Regions from separate parts of the Homo sapiens genome. Here all the other regions are reported to be linked to region 3. Evidence: microRNA targets listed by miRTarBase, many of them from high-throughput screens and not tested one by one. Region 3 holds a microRNA gene; each other region holds the end of a gene's coding sequence.
Evidence for each region. The annotated mature microRNA hsa-miR-449a reads UGGCAGUGUAUUGUUAGCUGGU and lies in region 3 at 3,290-3,311, opposite strand. An mRNA with a match to its seed (bases 2 to 7 or 8) in the 3' UTR can be bound and repressed. Matches are read on the target gene's strand: a 7mer-m8 pairs with bases 2 to 8, a 7mer-A1 pairs with bases 2 to 7 and ends in A, and an 8mer does both.

Region 1: miRTarBase lists PHF19 as a target of hsa-miR-449a. Seed matches in the 3' UTR shown: 7mer-A1 at 6,334-6,340.
Region 2: the mRNA of UST is a reported target of hsa-miR-449a. Seed matches in the 3' UTR shown: 7mer-m8 at 6,375-6,381 and 8mer at 6,199-6,206.

What each region holds. Positions count from the first base shown.
Region 1 is chr9:120,849,445-120,858,592 of GRCh38, forward strand. PHF19 (PHD finger protein 19) reads right to left here. Exons shown (of 15, transcript NM_015651.3): 15 at 6,207-8,842. The coding sequence ends at 8,500. It also overlaps the pseudogene CUTALP. Among named protein-coding and RNA genes, the nearest start is that of PSMD5, 11 kb to the left of the region's middle. RefSeq lists enhancers at 6,291-6,792, 6,793-7,292.
Region 2 is chr6:149,071,203-149,081,948 of GRCh38, reverse strand. It overlaps UST (uronyl 2-sulfotransferase), which reads right to left. Exons shown (of 8, transcript NM_005715.3): 8 at 4,959-8,116. The coding sequence ends at 7,833. Among named protein-coding and RNA genes, the nearest start is that of UST-AS2, 44 kb to the right of the region's middle. RefSeq lists enhancers at 1,857-1,976, 7,605-8,804.
Region 3 is chr5:55,167,297-55,172,296 of GRCh38, forward strand. MIR449A (microRNA 449a) reads right to left here and starts at 3,326; the gene lies at 3,236-3,326. The region is part of intron 2 of CDC20B (cell division cycle 20B); the gene reads right to left. It overlaps GPX8 (glutathione peroxidase 8 (putative)), which reads left to right. Exons shown (of 3, transcript NM_001008397.4): 3 at 1. It overlaps MIR449B (microRNA 449b), which reads right to left and starts at 3,446; the gene lies at 3,350-3,446. It also overlaps MIR449C.

The DNA.
Region 1 (9,148 bases), not on the chromosome of region 3:
AGAGTCCTGGAGATCCCCATGGGTCAGTGGACCTTCACTTTGAGAACCTCTAGTATAAACCTTTATCATTCAGAAGTGGAATTTTTGGAATTGGCATCACCTGGGAGCTTTCAAGAACTGTAGAATCTCCTGCTCACCCCAGACCTACCGAATCAAATTATAGTTTAACAAGACCCCCAGGGGATTTCTGTGCACATTAAATCTTGAGAAGCACTGGTCTAAACCAGTGTTTCTCACCGCTGGCTGCTATGTATTAGCATCACTTGGAAACATTTTTCAAACTACCAATTTAGGCCCCACCTCACAGATTTCGACTTAATTTGGCCAGGGCGGGGATCAAGTATAGTGGTACTAAAAAGCACCTTTCTTTTTAGATGACTCTAACGTGGTCACCTGAACCTTCTGAGGTTGACTCTAACGTAGGGCCAGAGATGCAAACCACCTATATGGATGATGAAACCTTTTCTTTACTCCTTAGGGAACTAAGATTCTGTGAATACACCGTTCCCCTGGGTCTCAAACTAGCTCTAGAGGAGGCCCTCATGATACCACCTCAGCAGAGGTGAGAGAGTAAGGAACCATTGGTAGAGCCAGTACTGTGGAGAAATTAAAATTTAACTGGTGAGGGACAGCTTCAGGGTTAAGAGAGTTGGACCTCCTACCTTGAAACCTGGCTCCCCACCTGCCACTGTTCCATAGTGCTTGGAAAATATGAATATTTTATGTGCCTCAGTTGCCCCTTCTGTAAAATTGGGATTATACTAATGGGTTGTTATGCATATGGAAATTAATATGTGAAACCTGTACATGAAATGCTTTATCAGTCTCAGCTCTTATTCCTAATGTGTTAAAAATGTCTTTGAATTCTGTATGTCTGCTTATAAAAACACATAAGTTAACAAAATTCATTATCCTCAGGCACCCAACGTACAGAATATTTAAGCATACATTTGAAGCAACATGTGAATGTATACATATGCTGTGATTTATTAAGCATGTTACGGGAACTTTAAAACACCTCATTCAGCAGAAAGGAGGCAGAGGATTATAATCCTCATTTGACAGATGGGACACTGAGGCCCAAGTCCTCATGTTCCTTCAGTCTAGAAAGTGAAGAGAACTTGCACTGTGTGACAAGGGCCAGGCGAAAGACACAGGAGAGGAAGATAGATTCCTGTAGACCTTGTTTGTCAGGGAAGATCCCTTGGGAAAGGTCAGTGGTTGAATTGGACCTTGAGGGACAGAGAAGTTTTTTTTTTTTTAAGCAAGAATAGGCTTTTGATTGATCAGCAGGAGCAGGTGGAATCTAGGTGGGCAAAAGAATACAGAGATACTGGGGGAGGGGGGATTGTTTTGGGAAGTGATGTGTATAGGATAATAATAAAAAGAGTAGCTCACATGTAATGAATGCATACAGTGCCAGCTGGTATACTGGGTAAGTGCTTTGTATACCTTGTGTTAATTAATCCTCAGCAGTCCAGTCATGTAGGGCCTTTTTTTTTTTTTTAAAAATAGGAGCATTTAAAGAAAACTAAGTGACTTGTCCATAGTCAGACAGCTAGTAGGGGCAAAGTTAGAATTTGAACCCATGTCTGTGAGACTCTAAAGCTATCTGGCCTAACTGGCCACTTATTGACAGATGGGAAACATAGGCTAGGGAGTGACAGGCCGTGGGCCTGGACAGGTGGGGTGCGGCAGGTTGCAGAGGGCCTCCCTTGAGGCTGGCCAGTTGGGTTTTATCACGAGTTGATTCTAATCATAGTCACTTATAGGGCTTTGCTTTCTCTCCAAAGGCTGTACATCCTTTTGAAATCCCAGAGATCTTCAGTCTCCCTGTGGATTAAGGAGATGTGCAGTATTTAAAGTGGCTTCAGGAAGGCATGGAAGAGGACTGAGTGGGGAAAGCTTTTTGTGCATGCTGCTGGCTACCTCCAGCGGCTGCCTCCAGCCTCCATCAGCTGCACTCTGGGGAAGAGGAGGCTGCCTTCTACCTCCCAGCATCTCTGGATTTCATGTTCCTGTCAGCACAGAGGAGCTAAATGGCCTGTAGAGGCTGAAGGTCTGAGGCTCCTAAAGCTGGAAGAAAAGGCTGGGCCAGTCAGGCCAAGCAAGAACACAGTGTAACTTGTCTCTGAGTGCTTCATGGTTAAGGGGGCTAAGCAGGCACAAGGGCATGAGGATGGTTATATGTACAGACTGAGGGGAAGAAGCAGTGAAGATGAGACTTGCCATCTTCTTGAGTCAGTAGGCCTGCCTCAGGTGCCTAGGATGTAATTGCTCTGCTGCTTCTCATGGGGAGGAGTGGCCCTCATGACCTTGTTTACCTGGAAGAGTGTGGGATGAATGCCTCCTCCTATGGGGACTCGCAAGTGCTTTAGCAAAAGGATAAATTGCTAATTGTGGCATTTCGTGGATCAGCAGGATTATTTCTCCTTGCTAAAGAGGATTTTGTTGGTCCTGAATTCTGAGGAGGTGGGACTAGGAATGGGCTCCATGAGCCTGTGTATGACTCAGGGAATATTAGGACTTTGGCACAGCCTCATGGGTTGGGAGTAAGTCTTGGCTCTTCCCTAGCCTGAATGACAGACATCAGATCATTCTGGTGCTTTGTCCATGAAGATGTAGATTCTGAGCCCACCCAACTAATCTTTTCACTTGAGCACAGAAACAGCCCCGGGAATCGGACAGACCCGTGTCTTTCAGGTTTGCTTCACAGAGCCCCAGGGGTTGACAATAGGTGCCTTGGAGACTGCCTGCATGGGGATTTTTAAAAAGCTTTCTTTGTTAAAGGTTTGTAAACCACTCCTCTGAGCCTGTTTTCATTTTATAGATTATTCAGGGAACTGAACTGCACAGAGATCCAGAAAGTGGGTAGTGCAGGCTGTAGTGCTGATAACTACTGTACTACTTGGATCTTTGTGCTCCCAAATACCAAATGGAAGAGGATCTCTGAGAGTCCTTTGCAAAGATCTTGTAGGGACTTTAGGCTGGGGCCTTCGGAAAATTCCAGAGGATTCCAATGGAGATTTTGAGGGACTGACTCAGAAGAACAAAGAGAATGATAATGGTGATGTCCCTGCTTTTTACAACAGATCATGTTCTGATATATATGCAAATCTGTGTAAAGTAAACCCTACCTAAAATGTACTGGGGACCCAAGATGGACTGCCTGTATTGCTTCCAGGATAAAGTCCAATTTCTAGCTCTGGTTTTTATAACCTTGCTTCAGCTCACCTTTTCCGTCATCATCCCCTCCATCTCCTCTCCCACGCTGGGAAATGGATGGCTGCACTATACTGTGTGATGTTATTGCTATGTTCATGCCATCCCCTCTGCCTGGAATGCCCTTCTGCATGAATGCCTGTGAAATGTTGTTGCTCCTTTGTATGGCCTGGCTTCCGTGGTTGGCAGGAATCTCTTCTTTCGTGGTATTCCTGTCATCTTTGTGCATCACAGTCAGCTTTGTATTCCTAGCTTGTAAGCTACTTGAGGATAGGGGCATGTCTGAATCTATTTAATCTCTTGCACCTGTTTGGCAAATTGATGTTTTAAGTATTTAAATAACTAAAGCTCTCTCTACAGTACATACTCACTTTTGATTTATGAATTGGCAAAATTCAACTTTTTTCCTTGAATATTCTTAAAGTGAGATGAATTCCAAAGGAGAGTGTTCTGTGTGTGGCCTTCATTGAGTGGTTTTCTGTTACCAGAAAGCTCTTGGTGGCCTTCCTCTTCCCTGGTGTCAAGGTTGACTGTTATAGGAAATGGGAGGGGAGAGGGCCGTTTCTGCCACGCATTGTCCTAGGTTCTTAACATTATTTAATCCTTATAATGCAATGTTATCCTCATTTTACAGATGAAACCTGAGACCAAAGAACATGTAACACATAAAGTACATTGCAGAGTTAGGATGTGAACCCAACTCTGATTCTAAACCTAATGCTCTCACTCTTTCATTCAGAGGTTCAGTCAGTTCTTTGTAGGCTGTAGATCCAGAGAAGCTGCCGTAGCCAACAATGAAGTTGTTAGTTTTTAAAACATCTATGTGGTAAGTTGGTCTGGCACTTAAAAATGTATTGTTTCCCAGGCACGGTGGTTCACACCTGTAATCCCAGCATTTTGGGAGGCCGAGGCAGGCGGATCATTAGGTCAAAAGATTGAGACCATCCTGACCAACATGGTGAAACCCCGTCTCTACTAAAAGTACAAAAATTAGCTGGGTGTGGTGGCGCATGCCTCTAGTCCCAGCTACCTGGGAGGCTGAGGCAGGAGAATTGCTTGAACCCAGGAGGCAGAGGTTGCAGTGAGCCAAGATCATGCTACTGCACTACAGCCTGGCAACAAAGCGAGACTCTGTCTAAAATATATATATATATATATATTGTTTACTACTCACCACAGATCTGCAGGAGTTCACTGATCTCTAGGATCTGCCTTAACTCCAACTTACATGTTTTGGTCACTATTACAAACTGTCATCCCAGAATGATGCTGCAGAGGCTAGGGCTAGGACACAGACCAGTGTTTCCATGTGGGAATTCCCTCCCAGTATTTCTTAGGAAATGTATGTTTTTTGAATCCATAATCCCTAGAAAAATCAGTTGAGGAAATGAGAAGTATTGTAATTATTCTGTGAATAGTAACACTTACCATTATGGAGACATCACTAGTTTGAAAGAATCCAACTTCATCAAATATTAACGTACCGAGTTGAAGGCTACAAGAACTGAGACAGGAGCATAGCAGAGAGAAACGGTCACCATCTCATTAGCCCTATTTTTGGTTGTTGTGATGCCATTACATCTGTATATCTGGCCATATCAGCTGCTAATGGTGAGTTCTTGCAAACAAAATGATTTGATAAACAACCTACCATACTTTATACAAATCTTATGGTGTTCCGAGAAATAAACTTTGGAAGCAAAATAAGTTAACAGTCTGGACACGATTGATTCTATATTCTGTTTACCTTGCTCTAGGCTATTCAAATGTTATATTTATTTGAACACTATCCAATATATGTTCCCTGGCATCTTCCTGTCTTTTAAATATTCTCTGTACGCTACAGTTCTTTGTAAGTAAAAATAAGCTTAATATGTCTACTTAGCAAACAAAGTTTTTCCAGATACCTATAATAATGAGGAAAACAGTATAAAGAATGAAGTATTTGAAGAATAACTTATAATTTGGGGGATTTCTGAGAATTCTACTTCTTTGTCCCTAATTTCCGAAGGTAAATGTTTGTTGTGAATTTGGAAACACTAGACTACAGAAAAGCAGGCACTCTCTAGCCTGGGAGGCCCACTGATCTTAGGAGGGTCCATATAGCTGCTTATTGCAGACCTTGCACTAGAACCCAGGTCTTTTGACACCTGGTGCCACTTTTCATTCCATTCCATTAATTATAGCCCAGAGAATAACCACCACCACCCCCAAGTCCCATTGTGGTTTTATTCTGAGGACAGATAAAAGGTTGAAGCTGATGGAGTGGTAGAAAGAAGTGGGAGCCATAGTGAATGAAGACGTTTAAGGGCAGATATTAACACCACTGAGTCCTTCATTCGGGATTACAGGTTACACTTTACCCCTCAAACTGTAGAATTCAGTGGAATCCATGGCCTTTACCTCTCTATAGATGACCTTTTTCCTACCCCTTTACATCTCCTGTTTTTTTCCTCTCCAAACTGCCCTAAATTTAGAGGTTTATTTTGAAGTAATAATCAGTCACACACAGCAAAGTCTCTCCCAACACATGGGGAGCAGATGTGCTGGGATTATCACTGCCATTTGAAGGGTGATAAAACTGAAGGAAAGGAATCTGACTAAAGTGGCACAGGTTAGAACTAGCAGAGTCAGGTCTAGAACTCATTTCATATTTCTAGAATTGTGTGATGATGTACTGATAAAGTTTTACGATGCCCGGATCTAAGTATTATAATAGTGTCAATTTCTAAGTTCATTTTCCATCTTTTACCTCTCAGTGGCACTCAACTAATGTTTTTTGCCCCCAAAGGTCGGGTACTCACAAAAGATTCCATATTCTCTCTGGCAGTAAGGGTGAGAATGTTGCTGGCAGTGGTAGGAGTGGCAAGGTGGCCAGAGGACAGGGTCCTGCCATTCCTCCTCAGCCTCCAGTAAACCAAGTGCAAAAGCCAGAGCCAATTCCTTCTGCCACCCAGCAGCTAATTCACTATAGGGAAGACAAGTGATTGTTCAAAGGGAGGTTTTAAATCATAAATCAGACACATTAATTATAACTTTAACAAATGTTATTAAAAGCAGCAATTAAAAACCATGAATCTTTTTGAAGGTGCAGAGGGTTATAAGGTCAGTTGGCAGTAATGCAGCTATTATCTGGTATGAATGAAATGCTGGGGTGGGGAGTCAGGGTGACCTCATTAGGCCTTGTGCTATCTTCCCAGGTGGTGCAGACACCCCCTCCCTCCTTTTCCCTCTCCAGGCCCACAGCCTCCCCAGAGCCCAGGTAGGGAAGGTCCAGATGTACTATAACAGGATTGCTCATCCCAGGCTATCTCAGAAGTCTGGAAAGCAGGCCTAGAAGGTTGCTGGGCTCTCTGAAGCCAGGCAGGAAGCTACAAATTGGATCCCAGTTCCCACAGCACCCCTGGGCTAGGGGTTGGCTTCTCAGCTCCCCTTCCACCTGGCCCTAGTTGGCCCCTGTGGCAGCAGCTGTGGGGCTGAAAAGGGGGAAGAACTGGGTCCAACGCCAGCTCGTCTATGCCTGGGCTGTGCCAGGGAAGCAGAGGAAAGTGGGTGGGCTGTGCACAGGAGGTGAGGTCCCCCTTAAAAGGCACTGTGGGAGCTGAGGTCTAAGATGGGGGGGCATCTAAACTATCTCAGGGACCCCCTGAACGCTCACAGGTAGAGAGGGGTCAGGCCTAGCAATGGAAAAACAGCTCCTGCAGGCCTGCTGCCCCGCCAGTGCCTCTTGCTGTACTACCACCTTCGCCTTCCTGCTGGCGGCCTGCAAAACCAGCCAAGCTGGAGGCCACAGCAGCAGTTGGCAAGGCTGGTCCCCATCTGGTGCCCACCCTCCACGTCAAGGCACTTTTGTCCATTTTCCAATCAAGTGAGTCAGTTTCTAATATCTCTGGAAGCAGCAAAACATCAGGGGTCCTCTTCCCCCTCCCAATTTTGGTTTCCCTCCAGATGAGGCAGAATTTGAATGTTGGTTCCAAAAATTCTCTTTCAAACCCCCACTGGCAAGGGCTTCCCTTTGAGGGAACCAAATGATGCAGGCTCTTTAAAAATTTCAACCTATCCCAAAAAGTGATTGTCCATTTCAGGGCAGGGCAAGGGATATGAAAGAGGGTGAGTCCCCTGTGCTTCCCTATGGGACCAATGCTGGTTGATGGGCTGAAAGAAGGAGCGGCCACTGAGCTTTCACATTTAGTTGCAGCACCTGGGCCCTGGAAGTGGGCCAAGGGAAAGCCAAGGGAGGAGCCAGCAGGCCCAGAGGGACGGTGTGGCTCTGTGTGTGTACACTTGGGCATGTGGTGGTGTGGCCGTGTGGGGTTGTCTGCATGCCTAGAGCTGAAAGTACAACACATGTGGATGGAAGCTTGTGCGAGTGGGTGTGTATTGTCTGCTGTGTGGTGTCTGGTGGGTCTGGGGATGGGAGGCACCAGAAACAGGTTTAGCAAGACATGGTTTCCCTCCCACCACTACCACCCCCCACCCCCGTCCCCCAGGTTTGGAAGGATGCCTCCATTCCAGCAAGGCCAGGCCCAGCTCTATGGCGACTGAGGGGGTGAGGCCAGAGAACAGAAGACTTCTGGGACCTCCAAAGCTGACATTGGCAGCCTTCACTCTCAGCCTTAATACCTGGGCCCTGGTGCTGGTGCCTTCTGAGGCAGACCCAGCCCTTTACTCTTCAGATCCTCACAGGCTTTCACAGGGGCTCTCTCCCATCCCACCACCTCTCTCCGAGGGTAGTGGGGAGTGGCAGGAAAGTGGAAGAGAAAAGCACTGAGCAGCATCCTCTTATCCACCTTCTCCCATGCTCTCTCAAAGGTGCCTGTTATGTAGTCCCTGGGAGGACTGGCTGCCCCACGGGTCACGTGTGAAGGGGATCCAGTGGAGGGACAGCTGTGCACACACAGGATGTGCGAACACACCCAGAAAGGGGCGAGAGAGGTCAAGGCACACAACTGGGGACAAAGACCTGGGCCTCAGGAGGAAGGGTCCCAGCGCAGGGGACACAAGGTCAGAGAACAGATAAACAGAGTTTGAGGGGGTGTGGAGTGTGTAGAGACACAGGCACAGGGGTAACGAGCCTGAGGAGGCCCTGGAACAGAGCTGGTACAGCAGAGAGACGCAGGCCTTGGCCTGGCAGGCAGGCAGGCAGGGCATTCTGCCAGGCACTTGCAGCTCTGTCCTGCTTCCTTCTCCCACCCCAGCCTGGAGAAAGCTGGGGAGCCTATGGCTTCTGCTGCTCCTCCTTTGGTTTTCAGGACCCCTGGCACCCCCGGGGGCTAGTCAGTAAGGGGTGGTCCCTTCCCACTCCACCAGGTACTGAACCTTGCCCTCAGGTGTGACCCTCCGAGCCAACACCTGGTACTTCTCCCCACAGGCCAACCGCCCAGCTGCACCAAAGTAGTTGGTGATAGATGACTTGAGGTGGGACAGGGATGAGTCATCTTCACTGATGCTCTCAAATGTGTGGCTGTCAATGCCTTCGTCTGGCCGCTCGGGGACTGAAGCCCCCTCTGCACTGCTGTCCGAGGGGCAGCGTCCATCCAGCTCAGCTGCCCACCGCTTTGCCCGCAGGGGCATGTATGCCTTGGCTGCCAGCTTCCTCTTTCGGCTGCCCACTGTCCATCTGTATCAGAAGTGGGAGAGGAAGATGATGAGAATGAGGTAGAACAATCACAGTAAATTCCTCTCCCTGAGTCCTCCCCTCAGTACCAGGAAAGTGGAAGAGAAAAGCGCTGAACAGCATTCTCTTATCCATCTTCTCCCATGCTCTCTCAAAGGTGCCTGTTATGTAGTCCCTGAGATAATCTATGCCTTGGGCATAGATTATCTCACCAGATCCTCACAAGAGCCCTGCGAGGAGGGAAACTGAGGGTCCAGAGGAGAAAACCAGGTAGGGAGTGGCAGAGCCAGGATTCAAACGTAAGAACGT
Region 2 (10,746 bases), not on the chromosome of region 3:
AATCCAATAATTTGCATTAAAGCATTGTTTCTCAAAGTGTAGTCTCCAGAACACTAGTTCCACAGGATATCAATGGGTCTTATGCAAATAAGGGTTTCATGGCAAATACTTTTGAGAAATTTGAAATTCAACAAAAGATCAATTAATTTTTAAAAATGCTTCAGTATGCATGAGTCCTTAGTATACTCTGAATATACTACCATACTGTGTAACACCACACTATGAACTGCAGCACTTCCAAAATTATTTAACACGATTTTTTTTCATGCCTATCTCACACACTTGGTTCATGAATTATCCTTTGAGAATACACATTGGACTAGAATTTCACTAGTTTCCAAAGATGGACACCATACAGGAAAGTGTGCCAAAAGGAGAAAAAGCAAATAGTAAATTTGATATGTGCAAAACTTAAGGTGACTATAAGGAAGTTTGTGGTCAGTGTCTTAACTCTCTTCTGCATTTGAAAGATTAGTAATACAACACATTAAAGTTTTTCAACATGGCAGTCCTATGGGGAATCAACCATGCTGGAAACATCACCAGCCCACAAAATCATTGCCAGATTTTTCCCACATCACAGCAGTAACACTACTTCTGAGAATGAGAAATGACCCTCCAAGAAGTTTAGTACCCCCGTCCTGCCAGGTTTCCAATTTTTACTAACACTTTTCTTTGTGCACAACCTGTATTAATTCACATGGATGTTTTAGGCTCATTATTACCATTAGTCATGGGATCACAGATACACACAGTAGTTTAAATAAGTTAGAGGAAGCCTGTATTTAGTACAAGCTGTGAATTAGAGCTGAATCTTCTAACTTGCAGCTAGACAAACTCGTCCCAAAGAATGCTTGAGAAAAGTGGAATTCCACAGACTGGTTTATCTTGGATAATGGCACAGTAAACAGAACAGTGGAAACCAGGCCAGGAGGAAGGGACCGATGCTTCTTCAGGACAGGTCCTTGCTGCATTTGCTCTATCTCATGCCCAGGAGGATGTGCCTACTCCTGGGAGCTCAATTCACATTTCAGAAATGCTGCTGTCCATCGACTCACAGCATACTGGGCAATGCCACTTGCAGACATGAAGGAACGGGGGCTTCAGGCAACCTGGAATGACTATATGTAATTCTATGCCCTCTTGCTGGGGATACAGTGTTCTGTGGTGAGAACAAACCTTTCATCAGCTTAGGAAGTGTTGTGGCTCAGTCTTTTAGCATTTAGGGGTCAAGGGTGGGAAATGGTTCATCCCAGAAGCAGCTCTTGGTTTTCAGTAGATGTTTTATTTTCTTTCTAATGTTTTCCAGCTGAGTCGATTTCAGACCGATGGAGGTCAAATGATTTACACTGATGCCCAGTGAAACAGAACAGCTGGGACTTGAACTCGGGGACTTGACTGGTGGGCAGCCCCCAGCCTAGTCAGTCAAATGCTCTCCTCCCAGGTTTTTACTGCCTCTCTGGTTGCACCTCAAAGGCAGCCTGCTGTGTCTGGCAGGGCCCATCTCCTGGGCCGTGTCTGCTCCTGACTGGAATAAGAGGCCTGTGACAGGTCAAGTCTGAATGTTCTGGCAGAGCGGCACAGGGCAGACTGCTCCACCCCTGCTCAAAGCACACAGCGTCTGGTGAAAGCCAGATTGAAGATAGCTAAATGCGCATGCCAAGATTCCAAAAGGAAAAACTTAGCTCTCAACTTTCCTTTGCATGGTGATTTTTCATCCTCTCCTTTTTCTTTTTGTAAAAAGGGAATCCCCATGTTTACAAGTTGAAATCCAAAATGCACAAGTGGTCAGTTCACAATTCTGTGACCCATGAACATCTGTGGGCCTGGGTGTTCCTTGGGAATCTGCAGTGCTTGGAGCAGTGAGCCAAGCCTGCCCTGGCAGAAGGGAATTCTCCAGTGAGTCAAATAGTCCTGCGAGTGCCCGGGGTCTGCTTCTCCTCTGGTTCTGCTTTCCTGGGACATGTCTGTACTTGACTTCCCCTAGTTTTATGAACTGCATTTTGACTATATTTTTGGAGGTGGGTCCATCTGAAACTCGTTACAGGAAGTAGGACAAGAATCTTCATTTTGCCTTTAAGAGAAATAAAACTCTGTAATCTGAGATGGGCAAACATGCTCCAAGTCTGTTTACCAAGGAACAAGAACCTCTCTGTGTCTTTTGAGCAGACAGAAAAATTAAAAATAAAATATTTATTTGGGATTTGTCTCTGAGGACTTCAGTGACTGAAAACCAATAGGGCCTCCCCTCCCTCTGTGGAAAGGCGAGTTCCAAAGCCCCGGCTCCCAGGAGAGCCCTATGGTGAGGCTGCTCCAGTACAGCAGGTGGCAGTGGGTGTGGCTGAAAGTGCCTCATCACTTTCATTCTGGATCCTAGGTCTGTAGATGGGCTTTGGCTATATCATCTTTTTAAAGTTTTAATTTGGTAGCTGCTTCAAAAGTTAAGGGAACCCTCAATGGGCAAAGTTAGCATGTGACATATTTGTGTCTCCTCTTTGGACCTTGGTTTTCCTTGTCTGTAAAATGAGGGAATGGACCAGATCACTGCTCCAGAGCCCCAATGCAACTATAGGAATCTGCACTTTGAGGCTTGCTTCTCTCCTAGTAGGAATTCAGTTCCTCTGCCCTAACTTTTCTGCTATAGTCTGGGTGTTATGGGCTGAATTGTGTGTCCCCCACAAATTCATATATGAAAGTCTTAACCAAGTATCTCAGAATGTGAGCATTTTTGGAAATAGGATCTGTATTAGTCTGTTTTCACACTGCTAATATTAAGACATACCCAAGACTGGATAATTAATAAAGGAAAGAGGTTTGATTGATTCACTGTTCAGCATGGTTGGAGAGGCCTCAGGAAACTTACAATAATGGCAGAAGGGGAAGCAAACATGTCCTTCTTCACATGGTGGCAGCAGCAAGAAGAAGCGCCCAGCAAAAGGGGAAAAGCCCCTTATAAAACCATCAGATGTCATGAGAACTCACTATCACGAGAACAATAGCATGGGGGTAACCACCCCCATGATTCAATTATCCATCACCGGGTCCCTTTCACATGTGGGGATTATGGGAACTACAATTCAATATGAGATTTGGGTGGGGACACAGCCAAACCATATTAGGGTCTTAAACGAAGTCATTAAGTTAAAATGAGGTCATTAGAGTGAGCCCTAATCCAATATGATTGCGGTCCTTAGAAGAAGAGATCAAGACACAGACAGGCACGGGGGAAGGACACGGGAGGATGCAGGGATAAGGTGCCCTCTGCAAGCCCAGGAGAGAGGCCTCAGGAGGAACCAACCCTGCCAGCACTTCAATCTCGGACTTCCAGCCTCCAGAACTATGGGACAATACACTTCTGTTGTTTAAGGCAACCAGTCCGCAGCACTTTGTTACGGTAGGCCTAGCCGACTAACACCACATGATATCACAATGAATGTGCTGGGCTGTGAAAGAAGTTCTGTGTGTTTTTCTTAACAGACTTGGATTTTTGGTTTTAGCCCAAAAAAGACTTTTCTGTAGCAGGATATTTAAAACATTATGTTTGTTTATTTTTTACAGATTTCTTTATCATCTGATGTGAAATAAGCCGTGTTAGTAAAATAACTCCTCTTTATCTTTACTTGAAGGGGGTTTCACAATTTTGACCCAGAGGGCTATTTTTCTTAATAGCTATGGATTGTCATCCTGCTTTTTTTTTGTTTCTTTTTTTTTTTTTTTGACGGAGTCTCGCTCTGTCACCCAGGCTGGAGTACAGTGGCATGATCTCGGCTCACTGCAACCTCTGCCTTCCAGGTTCAAGTGATTCTCCTGCCTCAGCCTACTGAGTGACTGGGACTGCAGGCGCATGCCACCACACCCAGCTAATTTTTTGTATTTTTAGTAGAGACGGGGTTTCACTGTGTTAGCCAGGACTGTCTCAATCTCTGGACCTCGTGATCCGCACGCCTCGGCCTCCCAAAGTGCTGGGATTACAGGCATAAGCCACCGCGCTCGGCTGTCATCCTGCCTTTTAAGAAATACTGTCATTATCTATAAAATTCATTAAAGGCCAAATAGCTCATTGGATAAACCCGCAGGTGATGGCACATGTATAAAGAACTTCAGACCACACAAGCAACCCCAGATATGGCACGGTCCAGTTTTTCTTGAGTATTTTTGGCTCTAAAGTTGATTGAGTCAAACATCATTTGATTGAGTTACAGAAGGACAAACAAAATGATGAACAAAGGTCACCACTTATCACCTGCTGTTTAAGATTCTCATATTCTTACTTGAAATAAAGCATACCATTACCAAAGTGGATTTTTCTTTCCTTTCGTATCAGCATTCTGATTCTTTTATATAACAGTCACATGTAATTGGAATGTAGCATCAGACACACAGGGAGCATAGTTTGTTTCTCTTTGTAAGCTCCATTTGACCACAGCAGTGAAATTTCCCAAGAACGGTGTTTCCAGATCAAGACTACTCACTTGAGAGCTTAGAGTGGTCCAGGTTTTGAAGTGCTGCATGTCTGAGAAACAGATCATCGTAGACACTGAGAATTGGGGCACATCCTTCCTTTCCTATCTGACGGTAGACATGCCCCGTAGATGCTGGATAACAGAGACAGATGATTCAGATGTAGCACCCCGACATGAAACCAACCGTGGAAATACTGATAAAATCACCTGTTTGCTTTTTAAAATATGCAACAACATGAGTAAATGACTAGTTCATTTTATCAGCCCCCTTTTTTTTGCTGTCATATAATTACACGAATGAAAATTGATACACTTTTTAAAATACAGCTTTTCAAAATCCCATCTTGAGGAAAAAAGCTTGGCCAATTAAGAAGGCTGAGGGGAGGAACTGCAGGCACTTTTATTTCCAGCTGTCAACAGGATGGAAGAAATATGTCAACTTATTTATATTTATTTATTTATATGGGTGATGAATAAGTTAAGGAATGCTTCATCTCAAACACAGATTGCTTTTATTTTAGCTAAGTTAATGTTTCAGTTCCATATATATTTTTGAATTTCCATCAACGTCAAACACCATTTTTTTCTTTCTTCTTAAAAAAAAAAAAAGATTTACAAGCACTTTTACGGCACTCAAGAAAGTAGGCTGAAGGTTCATAATAATAATTTTCCTTTTAAAAAACATCCATCAGACCAAAATAAAATCATTTTAATTAACTCCTTCCTGAGTAACTAAAACCTTGGAATGTGCTGAAAGGTTATAATAAATAAGACAGTCAAAGATCAACTAGCTTAAAAGGTATTTTTTAAATTAAACTATGTAAAATGTACAATATGTTTCATGAAGTACAAACTGTTGGGCCCAGGGCCAAAAAAAATGTTGTCATGTTTGCCAAATAAACTGAAGTACCTTGACTTTTAGGACCTAGAGGGTGTTGGCTGGGACAAAATAACATTAAGGCCCTGTAAGTAAATCCGTCAGCATCTTTTTTTGTGAAGTTATAATGATCACTGCTGAAAAGAAATGCCTTTGAACACACAGGTAAAAGTACCCAGATAAACTTGCAGTAAGAGGATGAATGTTTTTGAACGACCAATTGTCCCAATGTTCTGACAAGAGCAGAGAAAACACAGCCAACTCAACTTTATTTTCAGATTGTGAGATTGCACAGTGTGTAAACTTATCATCATTCTTTATATGGAATTTCATAGAAATGACTCACAGGGTACCAGGCAGCAGTTCTTGTACTGGTTTTGAATATGATTGATAGCTGTTCTCCAGGTTGCTTCTGAAAGTATGCCTAATGGTAGGGCCCTGGTCTCTCTGAACAGGACAAAGGATATTTCCTCCTCTAAGAACATTTCCCTTCATCACTTCTCTGCCCCCGTCCTCTGAGGCAGAAAGAAGGCCCATGAGCGGCCAAGTGCTGGACTCTGTGCCTCTGTGGTCCCCGCCTTCCCTGGACTCCTGTGGGCTGCAGCCTTCTTAACACACATCTCATGATAAAGTAGCTTCAGTGCTCACTCGGCAGGTTCCAAATGACTTGCTTTATATCTTGGCTACAGTCCAATTTTAGTGAAGGCAGAAAAAATTCTAGAGAGACTTTGTGGTTTATGAAAAGTATAAAATGTGTAGCTTGTGTAAAGTCAGAGTCTTATTTACTATTAACTACTCCCAACTCACACATTTGCTAGGGCTGGCTCTAGGGGACAAATATGAAATAGACAAAATTTGTGGCAGTGTCCTTCCTGCTGCCACCACTGAACCTCGGCTTCTTAGCTAGCTGTTTATCGTCTTCCCAGGAGAATGTGTATTTTCAGCATTTTTTTTAAGGTGAAAATATTTCAGAACTCAAAGCAACAGATTTCTAATGACTGAACCAAGGCATCATTGATAGGTGGCAGGGGAGGGGCAGTGGGAGGTGGAAAGAAGACATACCTTAGGACAGTGAGACTGCCCAACATGTACTCACATCACATTGGAGGCAGCCACTTACTTACAAAGCTGGCCAAGCAGTCTCTGTCCCAGAAGCTCTTGCTGCTTCTTTTTGATGTCTCAAGTAAGAGTTCTCAGGAGCACACAGGTCCCATAAGAAATGGGACTCTACCTGCACAGAACTCAGGTAGTTCTCGGGTAGCTCTTCCACCTGCACAGAACTCAGGACCCCTTTTTACTGAAAACAGGTACCTCTTAGGGAACTAGAAGTTACAATAGTACATAGTACCAGGTCCTATAGGACCCAACTTGGCCAGGGGTGTGTTTGATAGATTACACACCATCTGTGGTCAGGCTCAGAACTTCTGCTGTAGGAGTCAAATGCCTGAGCTAAATTGGTTCCTAGAACTTCCATTAAAGCAGTGTTGGGAGAAGATGTTTCATATTGGGTGCAAAAGACACAGCCATGCCCTTTCCCTGATGCCACATGACCTTCAGATTTATCTGTCTTGTCTACATTCTTCCTTACACAGCAAACAAATTATTTTCCCTGCTAGAGTACTTTGATATCTGTCAGCACGGTGCTTTGAAATGGAATGTCTCAATGGAGCTGGCCATGCACTTTGACCTTGAAAGGTACTCCAGGCTGTGGATTGGTTGGGGATGCGGCACAAGCTGACTTGCTCTTTCAGAGATAATTACACTGCTCTTGGTGAAAGTGCCCCCTGAGAAGGACCAGAGGCAGAACTCTACCCATGCGGGTAGAAACCACTTACCCATGGAGATCCTCCTCCTTTAAAAAAAAAAAATTAATTGAGACAGAGTCTCACTCTGTCACCCAGGCTGGAGTGCAGTGGTGTGATCACAGCTCACTGCAACCTCAAACTCCTGGGCTCAAGTGATCCTCCCACCTCAGCCTCGGATTATAGGCTCAAGCCATGGCACCTGGCTCCATCCTCCTTTTCGATGTCCTAATCTGTCTTACCTTCTCTTAGATCCTTCCAGAGGAGATACCCTGGTCTCTGAAGTGGTTTTGTATTTCCACTGAAATATACAAGTCTGGATGTCTCCTACCATTGAGGTAATATTTTTATAAGTCATTTTACAAATGATAAGTTATTAGGCTAGGGGCTATATTTCTCCCCCTTTTCCCATGATATGGGGTGGGGGAAAGCTGTTTTATGACAAGATGCCTTGGGATGGAGCCATCTAGTGTACCCGGGAAAGACCCAAAGAGCCAAGAGAAAACACAGAATAAAATTAAACAAATAAAACCCGCAAAACCGGGCATCTCCCAATGACCCCAACATGTGGGAATGTTTTGTTCTTTTTAATGCACCCAAGCATTAATTTAGTCCCTTAAGGATTTTACTTCCCCAAACAAAGAACTTTCTGGAAAAGGGAGATAAAGCCATAGAGGCAACACAGTCACATCACCTCTTATAAATATCTTCCAGCCACTTTTCATCATCCTGTTCTTCATCGTCGATTGGCTCCTCGGTTTCCAGTGGAGTTGGGATAAAGAAGTGTGGCCTCAGGGGGGGCTTGCTGACGTGAGACTTAAGTCCAAACTTGCGCTTCAGCAGGTGGAACTGCTCTTTGACGTAGTGGTAAAACTCGTACTCGTATCTCATCCGCTGGTAGAGGATCTGCACAGCCTCAGGAGAGGGGACAGTCTTCTTCACCGTCACAGTCATGTTTCCAAGCTTCCTGTGCTCTGGAAGAGAACCGGGGTCGCACATGAGCCATCATTTGCAGTAGCTTAGAAGGGATCCCGGCGAGGACCCACATTACCTGTACAACTCTGGTAGCACCTAAGGAAGCAACTGCATATCCAAGTATTAGAAGAGAAGAAGGGTTCCTGACAATATTTGGAAACACTTACCAACTCTAGGTGTTAATGTCAACATGAGTTGACGAAGCACAAGCTATCAAATTTCCTTTCATCAGATGTGAACCATGCGATTGGACCAAATTCAATTGTTAACTCTGAGTTCTACATTCTTTTGAACAGCAGAATCTATCCATTTTCCCTCTTTTATTTCTTGATACACCAGAAAAGGGCTTTACCCTCAGAAGGAGGCATGGAAGAGCTGTCTAACCACTTTCTAATAATCTTGTTTTGTAAGTTTTAAAATATTGACATAAAGTTTAATTTGATACAAAATCCATTTCCATTTTACTATTTCAACAATGCATTTGTCCAGAAAAGGAAAGGAAGGGCTGCCAGATTTCTTAAGTATAATTTACAAATTTTTAAAATTTATTTTTATTTTTTGTAGAGACAGGTTCTCACCATGTACCCAGACTGGTCTCGGCATCAAGAGATCCTTCTGCCTTGGCATCCCAAAGTGCTGGGATTATGGCACGAGCCACTGCACCCAGTCTAAATATAATTTTAACCCTTGTAAATTTTAAATTTTTTATTGTGGTAAAATATATACAACTAAAATATGCTTAATTTTATACTAATGCTTAATAACAAAATATATTTTATATTCATTGCTGAATAGCATGAAAATGTTATATATAGAGTGTACAATTTTAACTATTTTTAAGTGTACACTTCAGTGGCATTAATTATATTTACAGTGTTGTGCAACCATCACCACTGTTTTAAAAATCCTTTCATGAGTCTATACAAAAACTTGATATCCATTAAACAATAACTCCCAATTCCTTTCCTTTCCTTACCCCACCCTACTTACCCCATCGATTAGATAGAACCTCTAATCCATGTTCTATCTTTATGAATTTGCCTATTCTCAGTACTTCATGTAGGTGGAATCATACAATATTTGTCCTTTTTTTGTCTAGCTTATTTCACTAAGCATGTTTTCAAGGTTCTTCCATGTTGTAGTGTGTATCAGAGCTTCATTCCTTTTTTTTTTTTTTTGAGATGGAGTTTTGCTCTTGTTGTCCAGGCTGGAGTGCAATGGCGCAATCTTGGCTCACTACAACCTCTACCTCCCGGGTTCAAGTGATTCTCCTGCCTCAGCCTCCTGAGTAGCTGAGATTACAGGCATGCACCACCATGCCTGGCTAATTTTGTATTTTTAGTAGAGATGGGGTTTCTCCATGTTGGTCAGGCTGGTCTCGAATTCCCGACCTCAGGTGATCCACCTGCCTCGGCCTCCCAAAGTGCTGGTATTACAGGTGTGAGCCACCATGCCTGGCCCAGAACTTCATTCCTTTTAAGGTTGAATAACATTCCATTGTATAGATAGAACGCAATTTGTTTATCCTTTCATCCTTGGAGAGACACTTGGGTTGTTTCCATCTTTTGCTTATTATAATGAACATTTGCATTCTAGTATCTGAGTCCCTGTTTCCACTTATTTTGGGTATATGCCTAGGAGCAGAATTGCTGGGTCATGCGGTAATTCTAAGTTTAATGTTTTGAAGAACTGCCAAATTATTTTCCACAGTGTTTGCACCATTTTACATTCCTACCAGCAATGTGTGAAGGTTCCAATTTCTTCGAATTCTCTCCTACGATTGTTATTTTCCTCCCTTTTTAAAATTGTAGCCATCCCAGTAAGTGTGGAGTGGTATCTCACTGTGGTTTTGATTTGCATTTCCCTAATGACTCCTGTAGTGATGCTGATGCTAATGGTTTCCCTAATTTCTAATGACCTTTTCATGTGCTTTTTGACAAGCATGTGTCCAACAAATGCTGTTTGTTTGTATATCTTCTTTAGAGAAATGTCTATTCAAGTCCTTTGCCCATTTTTGAAGTGGGGTTTTTTTTTGTTTGCTTTTGTTTGTTTTTATTGTTGAGTTGAAGGAGTTATTTACATATTTTAGATAATCTGCACATATATCAGGTATATAATTTACAAATATTTTCTTCCATTCCACAGGCTGTCTTTTCACTCTGTTGATAGTGTTCTTTGATGCATAAAAGTTTTTAATTTTAATGAAGACTATTTTATCCATTTTTCTCATATTGCCTGACTTTTGGTGTCACATTAAAAAAAATTGCCAAATCCAAGGTTGACATATAGAAGTTTTTAATTGTAATGGAGACCATTTTATCTGTTTTCTTCTTATTGCCTGTCTTTTGGTGTCATATTAAAGAAGCCATTGCCAAATCCAAGGTCATGAAGATTTGCCCTCACATTTTCTTTTATAATCTTGCTTTTGACTAAAATTTTTGTCAACAAATTTGAATAGGTATATAATTTACTAAATACAGTTCCAAATGGCTATTTCCAAAATCAGACTCATCTGAAAGGACATAGACTTCCCAATTTTTAGGATATTTGAGGTACCTTCTGAAGCCTTCAGTAGCAATTCTAAAGAAGGAATTTGAAAAATTCTCTATGTAGAGGCTAAGAAGGGTAG
Region 3 (5,000 bases):
ATGTGCCCTGAAAGTTGTATTTCATTTTTTTAAATGTTTAACAATTACACTGTATCAATAGTATATATACGTGTACATATATATAATTCTTAATAACTGCAGTGTATCTAGCATATATATAATGGTGGCTGGTACATGTTTAATAGCAGACTCTGGAGGAGGAATCCTGACATACAGCATTTGCCAGCTCAATGTAAATGCTCATGCTCCCTCATGGTCAATTTCAATCTACCACTGGTTTAGTAACTAGGATGCAAAATTTCTAAAAATGTGATAATTGGTGATGGGCATGATGGCTCAGGCCTGTAATATCAGCACTTTAAGCAGCTGAGGTGGGAGGATCACTTGAGCCCAGGAGTTAGAGACCAGCCTGGGGCAACATGGCAAAACCCTGTCTCCACAAAAAAAATCAAAAAATTAGCTGGGTGTAGTGGCACATGCCTCAGGTCCCAGCTACATAGGAGGCTGAGGTGGAAGGATTGCTTGAGCCCAAAGAGGTCAAGGCTGCAGTGAGCCGACATGGCTCCACTGAACTCCAGGCTGGGCAACAGAGCGAGACCCCATCTCTACAAAAAAAATTTTTAAATTAGCCAGGTGCGGTAGCACACACCTGTGGTTCCAGCTACTCAGGAGGCTGAGGTGAGAGGATTGCTTAAGCCCAGGAGGTAGAGGCTGTAGTGAGCCATGATTGCACCACATTGATTTGTGGTGTTCCTTTGAAAGAAAAATGACATGTTTGGGTGGAGCTGATATGAGGACACTCTATCCATATTTAGTCCTCTGCTTGATTTTATCTTTCCCATCAAATAAAATTCTAATAATTGTTAGGCCTAGAAACTAATCCACCACACTCCTTCCCACTCTTCCCTTCCCCTCATCCAGCTGAACTGTTAAGGCTGTCTCTTGCAGAGCAGTGCAGGGGAATAAAAAGCAGCAGAGAGAGAGAAATTAGGAAGCTATCACTATAATAGTGACAGGTTCAGAGGGCAGCGATGGGAAGTAGTGACATTCCCAGCACCAGTGAACAGCCAAGAGACTGCCCCAAGAGAAAACACCTGGGAGAAAATACTTTGCCATCAGCAGAACCTCCCTCCTCTTTTTACCATCCCTTTTCCCTCTGCTTGACCCTTGACATCCCAGTGTGTATCCCTTTCTTTCCCTCTCCCACCTATGGAAACATTTTCTCTTTTAATTTGTATCTTCACTTTCCTCCTAACCCATTCATCTCTTTAACATATTTTTTATTTCTTTAACATATTTTTATTTCATTCCATTCCTTCCCTCTTTTCTCATCATCTCGATAATATGAGACTAAACCACAACTTTAAATGTCTTCTGTTTATTGAATATAAAGTTGGTTTCCCTACAGAATCAAAAGTTCTAAAAAAGAAAACTTAAAAAAATTTAAGTTGGCATTTTCAGAAACAGAAAATCAATTACGGCATGTTCCTCACTTCTAAGTGGGAGCTAAACAATGGGTACACATGGACATGAAGATGGAAACAGTAGACACTGGGGACTCCAGAAGGGGTAGAAGGAAGGAATACAAGGACTGAAAAACTATCTATTGGGTACAATGTTCACTATTTGGGTGATAGGTTCACTAGAAGCCCAAACCCCAGCATCGCCTATTATATTTATGTAACAAACCTGCACATGTACCCCCTGGATCTAAAATAAAATAAAGTTGGCATTTTATATCTTGCTCTTTAATTTAAAAAAACTAACACACAAAAGCCAAAGCTTCTAAATTTAGTAGGTTTTATTTTTATCACTAGGTCAGTGATTCTTTATAGAAAATAACATGTTGAAATTTAACCTTAAAAAAAGACAAGATGAAAATAATATTTACATGGAAGATATACTTAAACATAAATCTCCTGAAAGTGAATAACACTGGGCAACATCAAAAAGAGGATGTGATTTGAAAGTAGTAAAATGCGTAAGAATCAAATTATAGATATCTATTTAACCCATGTTCTAGAAATATGTTTAAATAAGGAAAGCATAAAAATTATTTTACCAATAACTTATAATCCAGTACAGTAGAGAATGCGAAATATTTCTTATATCTCATCTATGGCTTAACTAACTGATGGCACCACCAAAGTCAGTTCCACTGACTGGCTGCAAATGTCCGCACAAGAATACTGCATGTCTGGAAGCCAGCACATATCTATGCTACTTCGTGGGTCAAAATGCCTCCAAGGTAATGAGAATATATTTAAGGTCATATTGTATGGTCAGTTCTTCCCACTTCACAAGTTGTTAGATCTCATGCTGTCTTCCAAATATTTCATGAACCTGTGATTTTACAGAAAATGAAGTGAAAGGATTGAGGTAGATCTTCCAAAAAAATGTAAACCATCCCCCACCCAAAAAAAATCCCCAATATTCTTGATATTTCAAGTGAAAAATGTTTTAGTTGACTGACTCATCTGGAAAATTACCTCAACTTTCCCTTCAGTTGGTACACACACAGTCATGGCTATAGAAACCAATTCTAATGCTGTATTTAGAAACTAATGATGCAGAGGCCGGGCGCAGTGGCTCACGCCTGTAATCCCAGCACTTTGGGAGGCCGAGGCGGGTGGATCACGAGGTCAGGAGATCGAGACCATCCCAGCTAACACGGTGAAACCCCGTCTCTACTAAAAATACAAAAAAATTAGCCGGGCATGGTAGCAGGCGCCTGTAGTCCCAGCTACTCCAGAGGCTGAGGCAGGAGAATGGCGTGAACCCGGGAGGCGGAGCTTGCAGTGAGCCGAGATCGCGCCACTGTACTCCAGCCTGGGCGACAAAGCGAGACTCCGTCTCAAAAAAAAAAAAGAAAGAAACTAATAATGCAGAAAGAATCCTAAAGACTTCACTGAAAATCTGGGGACACATTGTAGGTCCATTCCACATTGTTATTACATTCTAAACCTTATAGTTAAAAACATGTAATTTCATAAATACTTAAACACTGTCTACTCCGAAAGACTCCAAAGACTCCAAAAATATTTCTTAAAAATTTTTAGTTATGGAAAAGCAGGCATAAGTAAATTTTTCTTAAAAGGAAAAAATTTAAGTAATTGTAATACTTTCCTTACCATTATAAAACTGTGCATTGTAAGTATTACTGTATTATAAGCTAATGGCAATAATATATTATGGTAAATAGTGGCTTGCTTCATAGCAGAAAGTACACATAAACACACACTAATTACAGATTCAGTTACACTCTGATGTTCATTGTATATGCAATAAGACAGCAGTTGCATGTTAGCCGATGCCATTCACATATTCAACCAGCTAACAATACACTGCCAGCTCATCACACACAGGTATCCAGAGCACTTCATTGACAAGAAGAATTTATCCAGAAGCAAGTGGCAGGGTAGTTGTGGCTGCTGACTTGACCCAAGCAGCCAGCTAACAATACACTGCCTACCTGATTCAGGTCACTGCCGATTCTCGTGGCCCAGGCAGTCACTGAGGCTAAATTTGTAACATGAAACATAGTGGCAGAACTCTAATCTTAATAGTCACATTAAAGAAAACTTATACACAAAATGTATTACTTCAAGACTATAAGAAATAAAATCAATATTTGCTTGAATCTAGTCAAAAACATAAAAGTTAAACAAAAACTTTAAAACTTTCAGAATACTTACATTTAGGTTTTCCAAATTAAATGCTTGGATAAAAATATGTTCTACAGTACAAATGAATTTTAAAAGTTACTTAACTGTAGGCTGGGCGCAGTGGCTTATGCCTGTAATGCCAGCACTTTGGGAGGCCAAGGTTGGCTGATCCCCTAAGGTCACAAGTTCAAGACCAGCCTGGCCAACATGGTGAAACCCCGTCTCTATTAAAAATACAAAAATTAGCCCAGCGTGGTGGTGCTGCCTGTAATCCCAGCTACTCAGGAGGCTGAGACATGAGAATCACTTGAACCCGGGAGCTGGAGTTTGCAGTGAGCCGAGATTGCACCACTGCACTCCAACCTGGGCAACAAAGTGAGACTCTGTCTCAAAAAAATAAATAAAAAGTTACTTAACTATAGCTTTTCAAATCACTTCTGTTTACTGATCCAAAGACTACTTGTCTGTATTAGACAGTAAAATATCTAGGAGTCGTGATAATACATAAGCTGTGCACGACACAAAACTGCAGCAGTGTTTGGGGGAAAAAATCAACATTAAAGTATTTAAGAAATGTAAGGGCTTAAATGCAATTAGTTTTCTCCTACTAGAAATGACATTAGTAATCGAGTTCTGAAAATGCAATTATGTATTCAATATAGGATGTTACCACTTGAATACTGAATTTTTTTTTTTAAGAGGCAGGGTCTGGCTCTGTCCTCCAGGCTGGAGTGCAGTTGTGCAATCATAGCTCACTGCAGCCTTGAACGCCTGGGCTCAAGCAATCCTCCTGCCTCAGGCTCCCAAGTAGCTGGGACTACAGGCACATGTCATCATGCCCAGCTAATTTTTGCAGTTTTTTTATAAAGACAAGGTCTCCCTGTGTTGTCCAGGCTGGTCTTGAAGTCTTGGCCTCAAGTGATCCTCCTGCCTCAGCATCCCAAAGTGCCGGGATTACAGGCATGAGCCACAGTGCCTAGTTGCAAAATTTATATAAGATCTAGAAAAATCTATTAAAATGGTGGTGGATTTGGAACTAGAATCTCTGCGTACAGGTCAAAGGAAGATGAACTATTGAGCCTAGAGAGAAGCATGGTAAATGGTGACAGAGATTTAAAGCAGATGAAGGCTCTTTATGAAACACGTTTATAAAACCATTTAAATTTGTTTCCTTTTACACTGATTACAGGAGACACTAAAGACCTTTGGGTTTGGTCTTTCAAGGAGAACAGGTACTACATTGGATCAACTTTAAATTGCTCACGTTAAGAACCATGGTTTATGCCACTTCTCCACATTGTCCACAAGATGGCACCATTTCCATTTCTTTGGGGGGCGTGCTTCTGAATGCAACAGAGAGGAGTGCAACTAGCA